Regions from separate parts of the Homo sapiens genome. Here regions 1, 3 and 4 are each reported to be linked to region 2. Evidence: microRNA targets listed by miRTarBase, many of them from high-throughput screens and not tested one by one. Region 2 holds a microRNA gene; each other region holds the end of a gene's coding sequence.
What was found. Region 2 holds the annotated microRNA hsa-miR-196a-5p (UAGGUAGUUUCAUGUUGUUGGG, at 1,909-1,930, opposite strand). A microRNA usually pairs through its seed, bases 2 to 8, with sites in the 3' UTR of a target mRNA and lowers its output. Matches are read on the target gene's strand: a 7mer-m8 pairs with bases 2 to 8, a 7mer-A1 pairs with bases 2 to 7 and ends in A, and an 8mer does both.

Region 1: miRTarBase lists ZBTB24 as a target of hsa-miR-196a-5p. The part of its 3' UTR that is shown has no 7-base or 8-base seed match.
Region 3: the mRNA of SPTSSA is a reported target of hsa-miR-196a-5p. Seed matches in the 3' UTR shown: 8mer at 1,637-1,644.
Region 4: the mRNA of MED10 is a reported target of hsa-miR-196a-5p. Seed matches in the 3' UTR shown: 7mer-A1 at 3,449-3,455.

The regions. Positions count from the first base shown.
Region 1 is chr6:109,462,646-109,466,645 of GRCh38, reverse strand. ZBTB24 (zinc finger and BTB domain containing 24) reads left to right here. Exons shown (of 7, transcript NM_014797.3): 7 at 72-4,000. The coding sequence ends at 795. It also overlaps a transcript of MICAL1 not described here. Among named protein-coding and RNA genes, the nearest start is that of MICAL1, 8.9 kb to the right of the region's middle.
Region 2 is chr12:53,989,542-53,993,691 of GRCh38, reverse strand. MIR196A2 (microRNA 196a-2) reads right to left here and starts at 1,954; the gene lies at 1,845-1,954. It overlaps HOXC10 (homeobox C10), which reads right to left. Exons shown (of 2, transcript NM_017409.4): 2 at 3,413-4,150.
Region 3 is chr14:34,431,850-34,435,849 of GRCh38, reverse strand. SPTSSA (serine palmitoyltransferase small subunit A) reads left to right here. Exons shown (of 2, transcript NM_138288.4): 2 at 546-3,062. The coding sequence ends at 649. Among named protein-coding and RNA genes, the nearest start is that of SPTSSA, 28 kb to the left of the region's middle.
Region 4 is chr5:6,368,709-6,372,708 of GRCh38, forward strand. It overlaps MED10 (mediator complex subunit 10), which reads right to left. Exons shown (of 4, transcript NM_032286.3): 4 at 3,166-3,893. The coding sequence ends at 3,795. Among named protein-coding and RNA genes, the nearest start is that of MED10, 7.8 kb to the right of the region's middle.

The sequences.
Region 1 (4,000 bases), not on the chromosome of region 2:
TCCCCCTAAATAATCAGGAAGTAGTAAGTAGGTATTTCCATTTTAAAAATAAAATGTTTATTTTCTTACAGAGGAGAAAAGCCATACTCCTGTGGCATTTGTGGCAAATCCTTCTCTGACTCCAGTGCCAAAAGGAGACACTGCATTCTACACACTGGCAAGAAGCCTTTCTCCTGCCCTGAGTGTAACTTACAGTTTGCTCGCTTAGACAACTTGAAGGCTCACTTGAAAATTCATAGCAAGGAGAAGCATGCTTCAGATGCCAGCAGCATTTCTGGCAGTAGTAATACAGAAGAGGTCAGGAATATTCTTCAGCTACAGCCATATCAACTCTCTACCTCGGGAGAGCAGGAAATTCAGCTTCTCGTAACCGATTCTGTACATAACATCAATTTCATGCCCGGTCCTAGCCAGGGAATCAGCATTGTGACTGCAGAGAGTTCCCAAAACATGACTGCAGACCAGGCTGCTAATCTTACCCTGCTCACGCAGCAGCCAGAGCAACTGCAGAATTTAATTCTTTCAGCTCAACAGGAGCAAACAGAACACATTCAGAGCCTCAATATGATTGAAAGCCAGATGGGGCCCTCACAAACAGAGCCAGTGCACGTGATCACTCTGTCCAAGGAAACACTGGAACATCTTCATGCCCATCAAGAGCAAACAGAGGAGCTCCATTTAGCTACAAGTACTTCAGATCCAGCTCAGCACCTGCAGCTGACACAGGAGCCTGGTCCGCCACCACCCACTCACCACGTGCCCCAGCCAACGCCACTTGGCCAGGAGCAGAGCTGACCTGTAAACACGTTTGACTGCTTGATTGGGCTCTTCTTATAAGCCAGCTCTGACTGGATTTTGAACGCTTGAAATCAGGCTCTCCACACCATTGACTTGCAGATGCTTCTGTGAGAGCTGTGATGGCTAACTGATGTTTATAATGCCCTCCATCCAGGTAGCAAGATGTGTGTATGTCTTGTCTAAGGTACTGATTTGTATTGAGCATTTCAATATTATTGAATGGTTTTCATTTTAATCTGCAATGTCTCATAAAGACTCGGGTAGTTTTTCTTTGGGGGCATTGATCTCAGTTTTTCTGTAAGGTTTAAATGTTCACAGCCATAGGTTATGGTCTTGCCAACCTCCCCAGTTATGTTTTTTTGTTTTCTAGGACAAAGGGAGTCATTTTGGTTGAACTGGGCAGAATGGTTTGTTCTATTTTCTTATTTTTCTTAGGCAACACAGTTGTTACCACAAGACAAGTCAGGGCTAAATATGACAGATCACAATGTATGGGGAATTTGCCCTTTTAATAATTTCCAGTCCCCTAAGACAAAGTAACCCTCAACGTTTTATCTTTATGCAGTACAGTGGGCTTATTGTGTTAACACTTCAGAAAGATTCAAACTCATAAACTCAGTATTTTAACTCAAAATTCATGTAACAAGATAGCCAAAAGCATAGGATTTCTTAAAATTCTGAATTCGTCTTTTCTGAGAAACATAAATTTACATATTTTTCAACAGAAGGCTATCAAAATTTTAATTAAGTTTAAAATACAAAATTGGATCAAGACATTCACCCTAAATTCTGAATTTTTGTCAGAAAAGAGATTTGATTTTCATGAAGGTAAAGCTTTCTTCACTATTCTGGAACATAAAACTTTATTCAGTGTAATTTAAGTCTTATATATACTCTACTGAATTCTAACTGATCTCCTGAAAATGTTGATCTACGTGTTGTGTCTGATAACTTTCTGGAGATGGAAGCTTATAATTCATTTTTATTGCAGACTAGTTAAATCCCACAAAGTGAATATCTTCTCCTAATCTTTCCTTTTTTAGAGACAGGGTCTCACTGTATCACCCAGGCCAGAGTGTAGTGGCACAATCATTGCTCACTGTAACCTCGAATTCCTGGGCTCAAGCAACCCTCCCACCTTAGCCTCCCTAGTAGCTGGGACTACAGGGATGTACCACCACACCCAGCTAATCTTCATCTAATCTTAAAACTTTGAGCCTCAGAGACTTTGTAGCCAGCATGTGTCTGTAATTGTATGATTTTTAAATCATCATCAAAAGATTAAATTATGTTTGGGTTAGGTTTTCAAGCTAAGCTTATTGAATTCTTTTACCACTTTCATGTAAGCTGGTAGGGGATTTTTGAGAAAAGAAGGTGGGCACTAGTATATCTAAATTAACAATGCTGATGGGGAGTAGGGGGTAATCTACTCTAAAATTAATAGAGCCTTTCCATCAATTGTTTTGTTTTAGACATCCTTGATTTCTCCCTAAATCAAATAAGTTATTTGGAGGTTAGAGTAATAGAGAATTCTTCAGGTTTGAGAGAAGATAAAAACATTTTGGTTGCATATTTGCTAAGCTATATTTTATTATATGTAATTCACAAAACTTCCAAAATGATATATATCTTATATGTATCAACCAAACTAATGTTAAATCAGGCCTGACTAGAGCAAAGATAACAATTTTTTACAAACACTGTTAAGCCCTAAGTATTATTTCAGGTTCTCGTTTAAACTGTTTAATTTTATTCTTAAAACACAAAGTTTTTACCAACTTTTCAAAGCCCACCAATCCACATTTTCTCCAGGAAATTAAATATTTAAGTAAGTGAGTGTTTACTCACTCTGGATAGCTAGGTGATTATTCAGAAAATACGGTTACATAGCTATTTATAAGTCAAGTTTCACTGGCTCTATAACAGTCTACCTCTACACTAAGAGAACTATAACATGAACAACATAGGTCACTTTAAATGTTCTAGTAGCAACTTTTAAAAACATAAAAAGAAGCAGGTGAAAATGTTAATAAAAGTTTATTTAATCCAACATTTGCCAAATATTTCAACATATAAAAATATATTAGTGAGACATTTTACATTCTCTTTTTCATACTAAGCTTTCGAAATCTGGTGTGTATTTTACACTTTCTGCACATCTCCATTTGGATGCTAATGTTCATTGGACATACTTGATCTGTATTTAGATTTCATACAACTTACAGTTGAAAACAGATTCTCATATCAAGTAGCTAAGACAAAAGTTTTTTTCAAGAATTGAAATAAGTATCAGTTTAAAAATTTATATTAAATTTATTAAAATTAAAATCCAGTTCCTTGTTGCATGGGACACAGTGCAAATGCTTGATAAGCACATGTGGCTAGTGGCTGCTATATTGGACAGCATGGGCCACCTGTTTCTAACTTGAGCATCAGTCCTAGCTATGCCTGAATTATTTGACCAGCTGTCAAAGAGAAACAAGGAAATGATAGCTTTGTTAATCTAGCCTCTTTCTTTGTCCCACATATACATTCTACCCCTTTGAATAAAAAAGTTCAATGACGCCGGGCGTGGAGGCTCATGCCTGTAATCCCAGCACTTTGGGAGGCCAAGGTGGGCGGATCACGAGGTCAGGAGTTCGAGGGCAGCCTGACCAACATAGTGAAACCCCATCTCTACTAAAAATACAAAAATTAGCTGGGCGTGGTGGTGTACCCCTGTAATCCCAGCTACTCGGGAGGCTGAGACAGGAGAATCACTTGAACCCAGGAGGCGGAGGCTGCAGTGAGCTGAGATCACGCCATTGCACTCAAGCCTGGCGACAGAGCGAGACTCCGTCTCAAAAAAAAAAGTTAAATGACTTGAGTACCCAAAAGAAATGTCGTGAACATGAAAGTACTTCTCATGTGTCCTTGAGAAATGATGTTGCTAGTGCAGTGTTTCACAATTCATTTTCTACTAAATGTGTACCATTTTTTAAATTGTTTTAACAGAAATATAGAGTGTGTTTCTTAGGAAATAGAATGTTATGCTTTGGGGCTCCTGAAACACCTCGTTTTGAAGGTGAATCTTTGGTTTTCTCCCAGAAGAGGGTCTGCCTTGGGATGATTGGAGCTCTTACCATCAAAATCAGTTATTCAAGTGCTTGCCCAGTGCTTCTTGAAACTCACCTCTACTCTGTATTTTCTACAGTTGGTTCTT
Region 2 (4,150 bases):
GGTGGACTCTGACCACCAGACTGGTCCTCACCTTGGCCCTATGAGACCTCGCTCCATTTCTCTGCATTTGGGGAGGAGACACCTCAACCCCTGGCTCTCTGACCTCCCACACATAAGCCCAACAGCTCTGAAACGGAAATGGGGGCACAGAGACCCAAAGCACAGAAGTCGTTCATTAGTGAATTTCGGCCCATCAGGGACTCTATCTCCAAGCCAAATGCTCCTGAGCACCCAGTCCCTGCCTGGGACACGCTTTGCCCCAACTGACTGTGTGCCTGGGGCAGCCTGAAGACTCAAAGGCTGCTAGGAGCTCCCAAACTAGGGGAATCCCTTGCCTGCTTCCCACCAGCTGGCCTGACTCTCTGGAAACTTCCCCATTTCCCTGGGAGCCATAGAGAGGTTTGAATACTTCTCTCCAAGAGAAGAAATTTTTTCTCTCACAAAGGGATGGGGGACAGACAGACCAACAATCCAGCTAGGGAGACAGGAAATTCTATTCCCATTTTCTCCTCCAGCTTCCTTGGGAGTCAAAACAAATATGTTCGCATAAGAGAGGGGAAAAATAAATGTGTATGCGTATAAATACATACAGGGTATTTAAGAGAGCCTAGGGGAGACAGAAACAGAGCCCTACACTCATACAAGGTCACATATATCCCTCCCAGCAGATGACTGTGAGAATATAGAACTCTGTATATATTTTGTTACAGGGACATAATTTTGTTTCCCTGTCTAGACGTTTATAATGTTTTAATAATCATAATAATTTCAAAGTAAGAGAACCAAGAACCTGACCTTCTTTTGGCTTCTCTTCCCCAGTATCTCTGAGAACAGGGGTGTATCTCCTCAGTCTCCATAACCCCTCCCCCATTTATTCCCCCCCCCCCAACTCCGCCCGCAGGCAGGCAAAGAAACCTCTTTTGAGAACTTTCTCTGTAGCAACCAGGGCCAGAATTGAAGAACCAAGGGGGAAAGGATGAGAGGAAGCTTTGCAAAGTTTCACACTGCTCAGATTTTCCTCTACCCCATTCTCCTCCCCTCCTCCCCCTGGCATCAGCCAACAACCTTTCCACCAACATAGCAATGGTGGGCACGGGCAGCCTCTGTTCACCCAGATGTTTCCACATAGTGCAAAGACAGGCAGCTGCCTGACAGTCACAGCCACAGAAACTGAGGCCTTCAGGCCACAGACGACTAAACAGAGACCAGAGTCAGGTTTTTGCCCTGATGTTTCCCAGTTGCGTGCGTGTGCGTGTGTGAGGGGTTCTACTTGGACTTTGATGGCTTTCCTCTAACCTACCAACACCCCAAACATGTCCTTCCCCTGGAGATGGAGCTATAGAAGGGGAAGGGGAAAGGGCTGGGCTGGCGCTCAGAGTTCCCCAACTCTTGGAACCTCCAGGTACCCCACTTTTCTAAGGAGAATCTTGAGCCCCAGTCGACTGGAGGTGGTAGGTGGGAGAGGCTAACCATTCCAGAGACCGTCTTCTCTTTCTGTGCTCCTCTTTCTGCTAATAATTCTGCCCCACCCTGCTGCCCAACTGAGCTGGCCCGCCAGGCCACCTCTTACTCAAACTCCTGAATTTCCTTGGAATTGGCTGGACCCTCTTTGTCTGTCTCCATCAGCTGGGCCCAGGAGACAATAGCTGCAGGAAAGACTCCTCTCCCTTAATCACAGGGATTGGGATAGGTTGAGAGGACGGCATAAAGCAGGGTTCTCCAGACTTGTTCTGCAACCCCACTCACAGCTTGTCCTCCTTGGTCTGCACCCACTTTGCCCTATCTGGGAGGGGGCAGTGGGGCAGTCCCACTGGGGAGGGTAGGAGTGGGAGAGGTGGGTTGGGGCCCTCGACGAAAACCGACTGATGTAACTCAGGCAGTTTCTTGTTGCCGAGTTCAAAACTCAATCCCAACAACATGAAACTACCTAAGCCACAGATCAGCTGAGCGAGCAGGGCGGGAGATTCAGCTTTGCATCTATCTGGAGGAGAAGGGAAGGGGGTTGGGGAAGGAAGAAATTCAGCCCCGTCCCCCTTTCCGCCCCCACAACCTCCCTAAGGACTAGAGAGTAGACTTTGGGTTGCTGGGTGGGTAAGGGGTCTGACTGCCTTCATTAGTTTCTGGTCTAAGCAAATTGCTCAGGAAAAATCTGGTGAAATGGGACCACTGGCGGCCAAATACCTGCCCCACCCCCAGCACCGCAGTGGAGCTATTCCCCTGCATCTGGCCCTGGCCCTGGGGGAAGCTGGATCTTCCTTCCACTCTGGAGCTGGGTCCCCTGTCTTGTCCATCTGGCTCTCCTGCACTCTCCTGCTAGACTCCCTCTGATCCTCTCCCTCTCAGCTCGGTTTAGGCTTCTCAGCGAATGTGGGTAGCTGAATCATAGCCCTGTGCTCTGGAGCCACTTCCAATCAGGCCACTTGCCTGGCAAAACGTTACAGCCAGGGAGCACAGGGAACAAGAGGCTGGACGAGGCTCACATCCAAACCAGCGAAAAGCAGGAAAACCTAAGCTTCAAGCTTCAACCCTCTGTACTCCTCCTCCCCCACCAACAGACGACCAGACTGAGCAACACCTAGACCAGAGTGTCGACTTCGAGGAGACCCAAAGTGCCCGAAAAGATAAAGAAGCCAAAAACCATCAATTTATCCCTTTAACTGTGGAACCCCCATGGCAATGGGCCCGGGAGGGAAGGAGAGGGAGCTCCCAGTCGCTGCCCTCCGCTGCCAGCGGCCACTAGGAAAGCCTGGGTTCTCGGCAAGCACGGATGCCCTAAACACCTTCCTCCAGGCTCTGTCCGCTGCACGCCGGACACCTGGGGACACCGCTCATCCCCACTCCGCCGCCAAGAGAAGAACAAGAAACCGCTTCTCTTACCTTGTCGCTGCCTCCTCCTCCTGCTGCTCCTGGCGTTTCTGTTAGCTGCTGTCGAGGTTGGGGGGGCTGAGCTCCTCATGCCCCTCCAGCGGTTAAGTTTATTCCTTTCCTTGGATGGGTGGGGGGCTCTTGGGGTGACCCCCAGCAGCAGTGGGGTGCGCCCAGCCCAGCACCCCAGGCAATCAGATCCGTCTGCTCCTCAAGATTGCAGCTTGCTCTCTGCCTCTTTCCCTCCTCCAGTCACCTTTAAATGCATCTTTTACTGCAGCACCACATTATATTTGCAGATCATAAAATCCACCTCTCGCGCGCACCAAGACCGTCCTGACATTACTGTTTTATGACCTTGACTTATTGTGGTCACCTGGATAATATTTAAATCAACGTTATGGTCTCTCACTTACATTAAACCCGCCAAGAGACGTTCTAGAAAGGCTCTAGGAGATGAGTCAAACACAAAACACACACATCCACACACTCAGCCTCTTCGGGGGAGGGGTGTTGCTAAAAATCACTAAAAACAAAAAACCATCCATTTGAGGATTATGATTCTGGAAATTTATTAGGTTTTTTTTTCTCCATTAAGGAAGCTACATGCAAAAGATACAACATACAGAATATCTTTAAATAACACAACTCCCAGACAGGGACAGGACAATATTTGGGGGGGGGGGCATTCTGTCTTTGCTTTGCTATGTTCTATTTTTAATTTTTTTGTTCCTCTGGATGAAATTTCTGAGATGTTACTAGATGGGGGATGTGGGGGTGCTAGGAGGGGTGGGAGAAAAGCAGAAAGCAGTACAAATACGAGACTTCAAGCAGATTCTTAGAGCGACTGGGAGGTAAAGACATGGAGAGGGTTTGGTGGAGGCTCTGGGTGCTACGACAAACACACGAACACTAGCCGAACTTTCCAAAACGTCTATTAGTCTAAGGAGGAAATGCAGCAAGGAAGGAACGATTCTGCCTGTGCTCTGCGAGATTACAGACCCTCTCTGGTTAATTTTTTTCCTTTTTTTCCCCTACAAGCGGATGGATTCGATCTTAACTTTGCATGGAGAACAGAATGCTGTGTGTGAGTGCGTGGGTGAGTGAGGGCTTGACACACACACCAGCCACACTCCCACCCCCATCTATGAGGGCACACACCACACCCCACATCCCGGCACCCCATTTCTCATGCTTTAAGTGGAAGCATCTTCGCAGCACGAACCACAGGTCCCTTGGAAGGAGAGTCTGAGGTCTTTGCCTTTTTTGCAGTCGCATTGCATTT
Region 3 (4,000 bases), not on the chromosome of region 2:
GAGACCAGCCTGGCCAACATGGTGAAACCCTGTCTCTACTAAAAATACAAAAATTAGCTGGGTGTCATGGCGGGCACCTGTAATCCCAGCTACTCAGGAGGCTAAGACAGGAGAATCACTTGAACCCAGAAGGCAGAGGTTGCAGTGAGCCGAGATCGTGCCATTACACTCCAGCCTTGGGTAACAAGAGCAAAACTCTGTCTCAAAAAAAAAAAAAAAAAAAAAAGAGAAACAAACAAACAAAAACATTTGAAGCAGTCTGATATTTTCAACTACACAGGGAGAATAACAGTACTTACTTTATATGGTGATAGTAAAGATAGAATGAGCTAAAAACAAAATAAAACAAAACCAGCTTAGAGTGGTGCCAGGCATGGTTGTTAGTGGCTAGTATTATCATTCTTGTTGTTTTTTTTATCAGTGCTTGATATAAATGAGAAAGCACTAAGTGAATGGGTACTTCAGCATAAAAGAGTTGTTGAAGACATGTGGAGATTTAGTTTTGAATAAATTAATAATAATAAGTTTCCTTAACTACAACTCAGATTCCATGCTGGTTTCCATTGTGGGGATGGCACTATACACAGGATACGTCTTCATGCCCCAGCACATCATGGCGATATTGCACTACTTTGAAATCGTACAATGACCAAGATGCGACCAGGATCAGAGGTTCCTTGGGGAAGACCCACCCTACGAAGTTGGAATGAGACCATCAGATGTGATAAGAAACTCTTCTAGATGTCAACATAACCAACCTTATAAAGACTAAAATTCATGAGTAGAACAGGAAAATCATCCTGACTCATGTGTTGTGTTCTTTATTTTTAATTTTCAAAGAGGCTCTTGTATAGCAGTTTTTGTCTATTTTAACATTGTAGTCATTTGTACTTTGATATCAGTATTTTCTTAACCTTTGTGACTGTTTCAATATTACCCCCGTGAAAGCTTTTCTTAATGTAACTTTGAGTACATTTTAATTGCCTTCTATTTTTAAAACTCAAAATCATTAGTTGGGCTTTACTGTTCTTGCTATTGTATGGCATATACATCTGCCTGGATATATTTCTACTCTTGACCAAAGTTTTGTAAAGAACAATATAAGATTTCGGGTAGGGGTATGGGGAGGGAAGATATTTTATTGAGAACTACTTAACAAAAGATTTATCTGTAAGCTTGAACTCAGGAGTACAGTTTTAGCTATCTAGACTCTAACAGCTTTTGCTTTAAAATTATTAAAGTGTTTCTTAATGAAAAAGAAAAGATCTTGCTAAAGTTAAAATAAGGAACATTTCACCTTTTAAATATTTAATTCTTATGTGGACTTATTTCCAGAAAACTTTGGTGATAATTCTTGAGACAAAAGGTGGTTAAGTAGCATTATTATGTAATGCTTATATACCATAGAGTTTTTAATAGAAGAGAAATCCATTTCCTCCGAGGGTCACTATTAACAATGTACTTCCTTAAATTTAGTTTAATGATTGTAATGGGTGCTGCATTTGCACATTGCATTAAGTTATGATGAGACGAATTGTTGTTAAAAATTATAGCAAAAAGAAATGTAAACTTGGTTAAAATCCTTTCACTCTTTGTATTGTTTTTTTTAAGGTTTTTATTCCTTAAATGTAAAATGACTACCTAATTTTTTGATGTAAATACATTAAATTCAAAGAGAAAAAAAATCAGCTGATGTAGCAGTATATCTTTTCCTTGATGGTTAAATATTGATCTAGTATTTATATTGCTGAATTATTTTCTGTGGAGGACCAGATAAGCAGTAAGTATGTCTTATCCTATATGTTTTGCAACATAAAAATATTGCTAATTGAAAAGAATTAGGCAATTATGTGTGTTGCTGGGTTGTTTTTTTGTTTTTTTTTTTTTGAGACGGAGTCTTGCCCTGTCGCCCAGGATGGAGTGCAACAGCATGATCTCGGTTCACTGCAACCTCCATCTCCTGGGATCAAGTGATTCTCCTGCCTCAGCCTCCTGAATAGCTGGGATTACAGGCACCTGCCACCATGCCTGGCTAATTTTTTGTATCTGTAGTAGAGACGGGGTTTCACTGTGTTGGCCAGGATGGTCTCAAACTCCTGACCTCCTGATCCACCTGCCTCGGCCTCCCAAAGTGCTGGGTTTACAGGCGTGAGCCACCGCGCCCGGCCAAAATTGAGGTATTTTTTGCCCTACGTTTTAAGGACTAGACTTTTGAAGTATTTTATAGTCTAGAGGTCTCAAGTAATATATATGTGTTTAATATTTTTAGAGCCAATTGATACCACAATTAGATAGGAGTAGTGAGAATAATATGGAATTACTTGGTTTGAAGTAGTTAAAAATTGGATATGGTTATATCTGAGCTGTAGTCATATTATCTCAAGAAAAATAATACGAGGATTTAACATAAGATTTGTTCTATTAATGCCCAAATTTGGCTTTCCTCTACTATCCCCCATAGAGAACCACTAACAAGTGGATGTCTAATATTCCTCTGGTGAGTTGAAGGCAGGAGAAGTTGAGAATCATTAGTTTCAATGAGTATCCAGGTGACCTATCCTGGCCCTCTACTCAGAAACCGGCAATTTGTCTTCACTCTGAGATTCATTAAATTGCTGTTGTATAACTGATGGTTATTATGAACACTGACCTGTGAGACATATGGAAGATAAAGTTTGGTCTTACAGGAAATCTTGAGGAGAGTCAAAAGAGAAATGGGAGATGTCTCTTGAGAGGTGATCAGAGAAGTTTATGCTCACTGTCTGATGCAAATGTCTGGTCTATTTGTTAGTAAATAACAGGGAAATCATTTTCACTTTTTGTTAAAAATAAGGTATTTACAAGCATACCTTGTAGTTATTGTGGGTTCAGTTTCAGACCACTGCAATAAAGTGAATATCTCAATAAAGTGAGTCACATGAAGTTTTTTGGTTTTCCCCTGCATATAAAAGTTACATTTACACCATCCTGTAGTCTATTAAGTGTGCAGTAGCATTATGGCTAAAAAAAAAAAACACCCAATATACCTATCTTAATTAAAGAATTATTTATTGCTGAAAAAAGCTAATGATTATTTGAGCCTTCAACAAGTCATAATTTTTTGTTGGTGGAGGGTCTTGCCTTGATGTTGATGGCTGCTGACTGATCTGGGTCATGGTTGCGGAAGGTTGGGGTGGCTATGGCAATTTTTAAAAATAAGACAACAATAAAGTTTGCTGCATTGATCAACTCTTCATTCATGAAAGATTTCTCTGTAGCATGTAAGCTATTTGATAGCCTTTTACCCACAATGGAACTTCCTCCAAAATTGGAAGCAATCCTTTCAAACCCTGCTGCTGCTTTATCAACTAAGTTTATAAAATATCCTAAGTCCTTCATTGTAATTTCAACAATGTTCATAGCACCTTCACCAGGTGTATATGCCATCTCAAGAAACCACTTTCTTTGCTCATCCATAAAAGGCAAAACCTTGTCTGTTCAAGTTTTACCGTGAGATTGCAGTAATTCACTCACATCATCAGGCTCCATATGTAGTTCTCTTGCTATTTTTAGCATATCTACAGTTAACTTCCTCCACTGAAATTTTGAACCCCTCCAAGTCATCCATAAAAGTTGGAATCAACTTTGCAACTCCTGTTACTGTTAATATTTTGACCTCCTCCCATGAATCATAAATCTTTTATTATAATGGCATCTAGAATGGTGAATCATTTCTGGAAGCTTTTCAATTGACTGCCTAGGTCCATCAGAGTAATTACTACCTATGGCAGCTATAGCCTTACAAAATGTATTTCTTAAATAATAAAGACCTCAAAGTCAAGGTAAATCCTTGATCCATGGGCCACAGAATGGATGCTGTGTTGGCAGGCATGGAAATGATATTAATCTCCTTGTACATCTCTATCAGAGCTCTTGGGTGACTAGATGCATTGTTAATGAGCAGTAATATTTTGAAGAGAATCTTCAAAATAGTAGTAGGTCTCAATGGTGGGCTTAAAAT
Region 4 (4,000 bases), not on the chromosome of region 2:
TAGCCAGCACCTGTATTGTCACTGACTGTAGAAATATTTTAATGAGGCACTCATATATATTTGATAGGATTCAAAAAATGGAAATAAAAAAAGAACACAGAAAACTGATAAACTACTCAGTGACATTACTGATACTCCCCAAAGATGAGCGCTTCCCCTTGTACCTAACACCTGGTTATTTCAGGACTTGAGCACAATAGAGACAGATGGTATCACAATCCTAATCAAGTGTAACTCCAACAGCTCAACTTCCAGGAATTTACCCTAAATAACAATTGAACAAGTGGAAGATGTATGGTCAAAGATAATAACTTCATATTAGTGAAGAACTGGGAAGCACACAGGTACCCAATGGGAGCTGATAAACTAAGCCCAGGAGAGCCACAGTCTTGTGACGTGGCAGGCACAGGCCCAGCTCTCCCATTCGTTAGCTGGGTGACCTGAGCAGGCGCCTCAGGTCCCTCATCTGTAAACCTCACCGATTTACTGTGGGAATTGAGGCAATGCATGGAAAGTGCTTAACCTGTGTCCAGCATGTAAATAACAACACATCTGCTGTTAGCACATTAATGGAACGCTAAATATTAAAATTATGTGAGAGGAAGTTTGAGTTGCCCAGATTTCATGGCATCCTGTTAAAAGAATAAAGGTTACCAACTCATGTGCATAGTAATAATTCCACATCTAGTTGTTCAGTGTGTGTGCACATCTGTGCAAGAGGAGAACATCTAGATGGATGAAAATCACAATAGTAACAATTTGGGCAGAAATGTGGAGATTTTTGTAGCTCTATTTTTCAGTTTTCTGTAATGAACCCTTCTGATTGTACACCCAAAAAGATAAAGAATGTTCTAGTTCTGTGTAAAGGTGGGGCTTAATTTTCGCTTTTTCATTCTGACCCACAGAGGCAGCACAGATTATCTAGAACAGTGACACAGGCTCAGGCCCTGTTTGAGTCCATACCTGCCTCGTGGTGGTTCAGCGGTGTCCTTGGGCATAACAAAAATCAGTAGGCCCTGGGGCTGTTTGCCCGATCTGTGTCTGCAGGAAGAAAGGGGTGGGGAAGAAGAGGTCAGAAGCAAAGCAGGGATTGGAACGAACTGGGTGGCAATGGGCAGGGGTGATGTGAAGCAGCTGATCGAAATGGCTGATACCGTCCCAGGATGACTCTCGCAATCATTCTTTTAACCAAAATGAGGTCTTTGAGAAGAAGGGATGAAGGGCCAGCCAGGTGTGTGCACCTGAACCCAAGCTCCTCCGGGTGGAGAGCTCTGGAAGGCAGTGTCAGTGACAGTCACAGCATGCCTCGCCGAGTGTCAAACGCGGCCTGGAACCCTCCAGTCCTCTCACACTGACATCAATTCCGAGCTAAGTAGATTCCTCAGCATTTCAGGAGATTTGAAAGTGATGGGCACTTGTGACTAACAGTAATGGCAGGTGGGGTGGAATTAAGGGGCATGTGGCCTGTCACAGTGTCGAGGGGCTCCAACACCTCTTCATTGCCTGGGGACCCACTGTGGTGGTGTCATCAGACACACTGATGAAAGTTAGGAGTTCCAAGGCAGTGCATCCATATACCCAAACTTTTACTCAAAAAAAGACTGGTGAATATTCCAGAATAATGTGTGACAGCTACACCGCCCCTGCTGGGCCTAGGTCAGCAGACTTGTCATGCTGTGGGCTACCAGATACGCATCTCTAGCTGACAGTCACCCTCTCTTCCCAAGGCTCAGACATCAAGATTAAAACAGCTTGAGGCCACCCGATTAACTCAGTCCCAGGATATGTAGAACAGCCCCTACTGCCGGCACATCCTCCATGTTTCAGAGCCCAGGAAGAGGGGACTGTGGACACTTTGGACCCACCCAGAACCAGCACAGAGGGAGGCGAAGCTGCAGGGCTTCGGGCACGTTAAGCCCTGGTGCCCCAGCTTCAACATCAGTAATATAAAGAAAGCCGGACCTCACAGGGCTGGTGAGGGCCAGGTGAGTTGATGCAGGTGAAGTGTGTGGGAAGAGCCCAGCGAGCCGCGTGCCCACATGGCCCTCGTGCAGCAGCCAATAGTCAGCATCCTGATGCCAGAAAAACAAGGCGGAACAGCGATTCAGGCACCCGAACCTGCCAGCAGGGGCCTCCTCTACTCTAGCAGAAATTCTTCCCCTTGGTAGCAGTAGGAGTCCTTTTCTGGTGCTGTTTTGGAGAGAACAGAACTGCTAGCGAGGGACCAGCTTCCTAAGGGGCCTGGCCCCTGACTCTTGGTAAATACGACCCTCCTGGGGAGTATTCTGGACTGAGTTGCATCCCTCCAAAACTCCAGTGTCAAAGCCCTAACCTCAGGACCTGAGAATGCAACTGTATTTGGAGACAGGTTCTTCAAAGAAGTAAGTTAAAAATGGGTCCTTCGGGTGGGTCCTAATACCATCTAACTGCTGTTCTTAGATTCTAAAGAGGTTAGGACACACAGAAGAGACACCAGGGCTGTGACACACACAGAGGAACGACCACGTGAGGTCAAAGTAAGCAGGTCTGCAAGCCAGGGAGGCCTCGGGAGAAACCCACTCTGCAGGCACCGTGAGCTTGTACTTCCAGCCTCCAGAACTGTGGGAAAATACATGTTTGTTGTTCAAACCACCCAGAATGTGGTGTTTTATTCCGGCAGCCCTGGCTAGGATCGAGGCTGGTTCAGGATCGCTCGTAGGAGGCAAATTAACACAGATTCCCAGGGCCCATCCTAAAGCCTGAGGCTCAACACGTCTGAACTGGGGCCCTACCTTAATAACAAGCCTGCCCAGGCCATTCGGACACAGGGGTCTATAGGTCAACCTCCGCACAGGCCGCACTAGGGCCTCAACTCCAAGGGTGGCCCACAGATCACAGAAACAGCACCACCTGCAGTTCATGAAAAATGCAGTTTGCAAGGCCCAACGGACGTGTGAATCCGAACCTGCAGGTTCACAGAATCCCCTCAGGATCTGTAAGCACACTGAAGCTGAAACAGCCCTGCCGGGCGTCTTTCCAGAGTGTCAATAAATTGGTGTACTATAGCCGCTAGGAAAGGTTTGTAGAAAAAATTGGAGTTCTGCATTTTGCTTTAGCTTTTCCTGCCTAAATGCCTGGAAAACAAATTTTCTTATGAATATTACCAACCCTCTGGGAAAGTAATAATTAACTGTTTACAAGACACATTGTATTATATTACAAAAATAATTACATGGAATAAGCCACATACTTAGTTTATTATAGGCATGTCTAATTGAAATCCATGAAAACAGTTACATTTAAAACATTCTTTATGCACTATACTTGAAAATGTAAAATATAATACCACTTAAGTACTTCCCACATTAAACTGATTTTTCTTTTTTTAAAAAAATTTTTCCTAGTCGTTATTTAGCTTTCGGACACCATAATACAATAGAACAGAAAGAGTATGTTAAAAGAAAAATATTAGGTAGAATGTTGTAAAACTTTTAATTTACCCATCATATTTAACATTTCCAAGACTATTTTCCTGCGCCTCATCTGCCCTCAGAGAGAATGATCCCCACAGTGATGAGGGGTCAGCACTCTGAAAGCCAGTTGACGCCAGACAAGCTGCTGGAACAGCTGGGGCACAGCTCCGCCTCTCCTCCAGCCCCTCGGTCCCATGAGGCCAAACAATGAGGACAGAGGGGCTGAGGGGTGTGTCCAGGGCCCAGTCCCACCTCAGCAGGAAGGTGGCGTCAGCACTCGCAGTCCCAGCCTCACGCCGCATCGCAGTCCCAGGGGATCTTCACACAGGGAGGGTGAGCTGGTTAAGAAGGCGGGTGATCCTCCCCCCGGATGCTTCGATACTTAGCCATGTCTTCCGGAAATACTTTAGAAAGTTCTTGAATCAACAGGCTTTTAAATTTCTACAAAGAAAATACATTATCAAAGGAGCTCTTCACATCAACACTCCAATAACTATTTAAAATATGCCTTTTGGAAGTTTAAACACATGGCCCACTAAGCAATACAG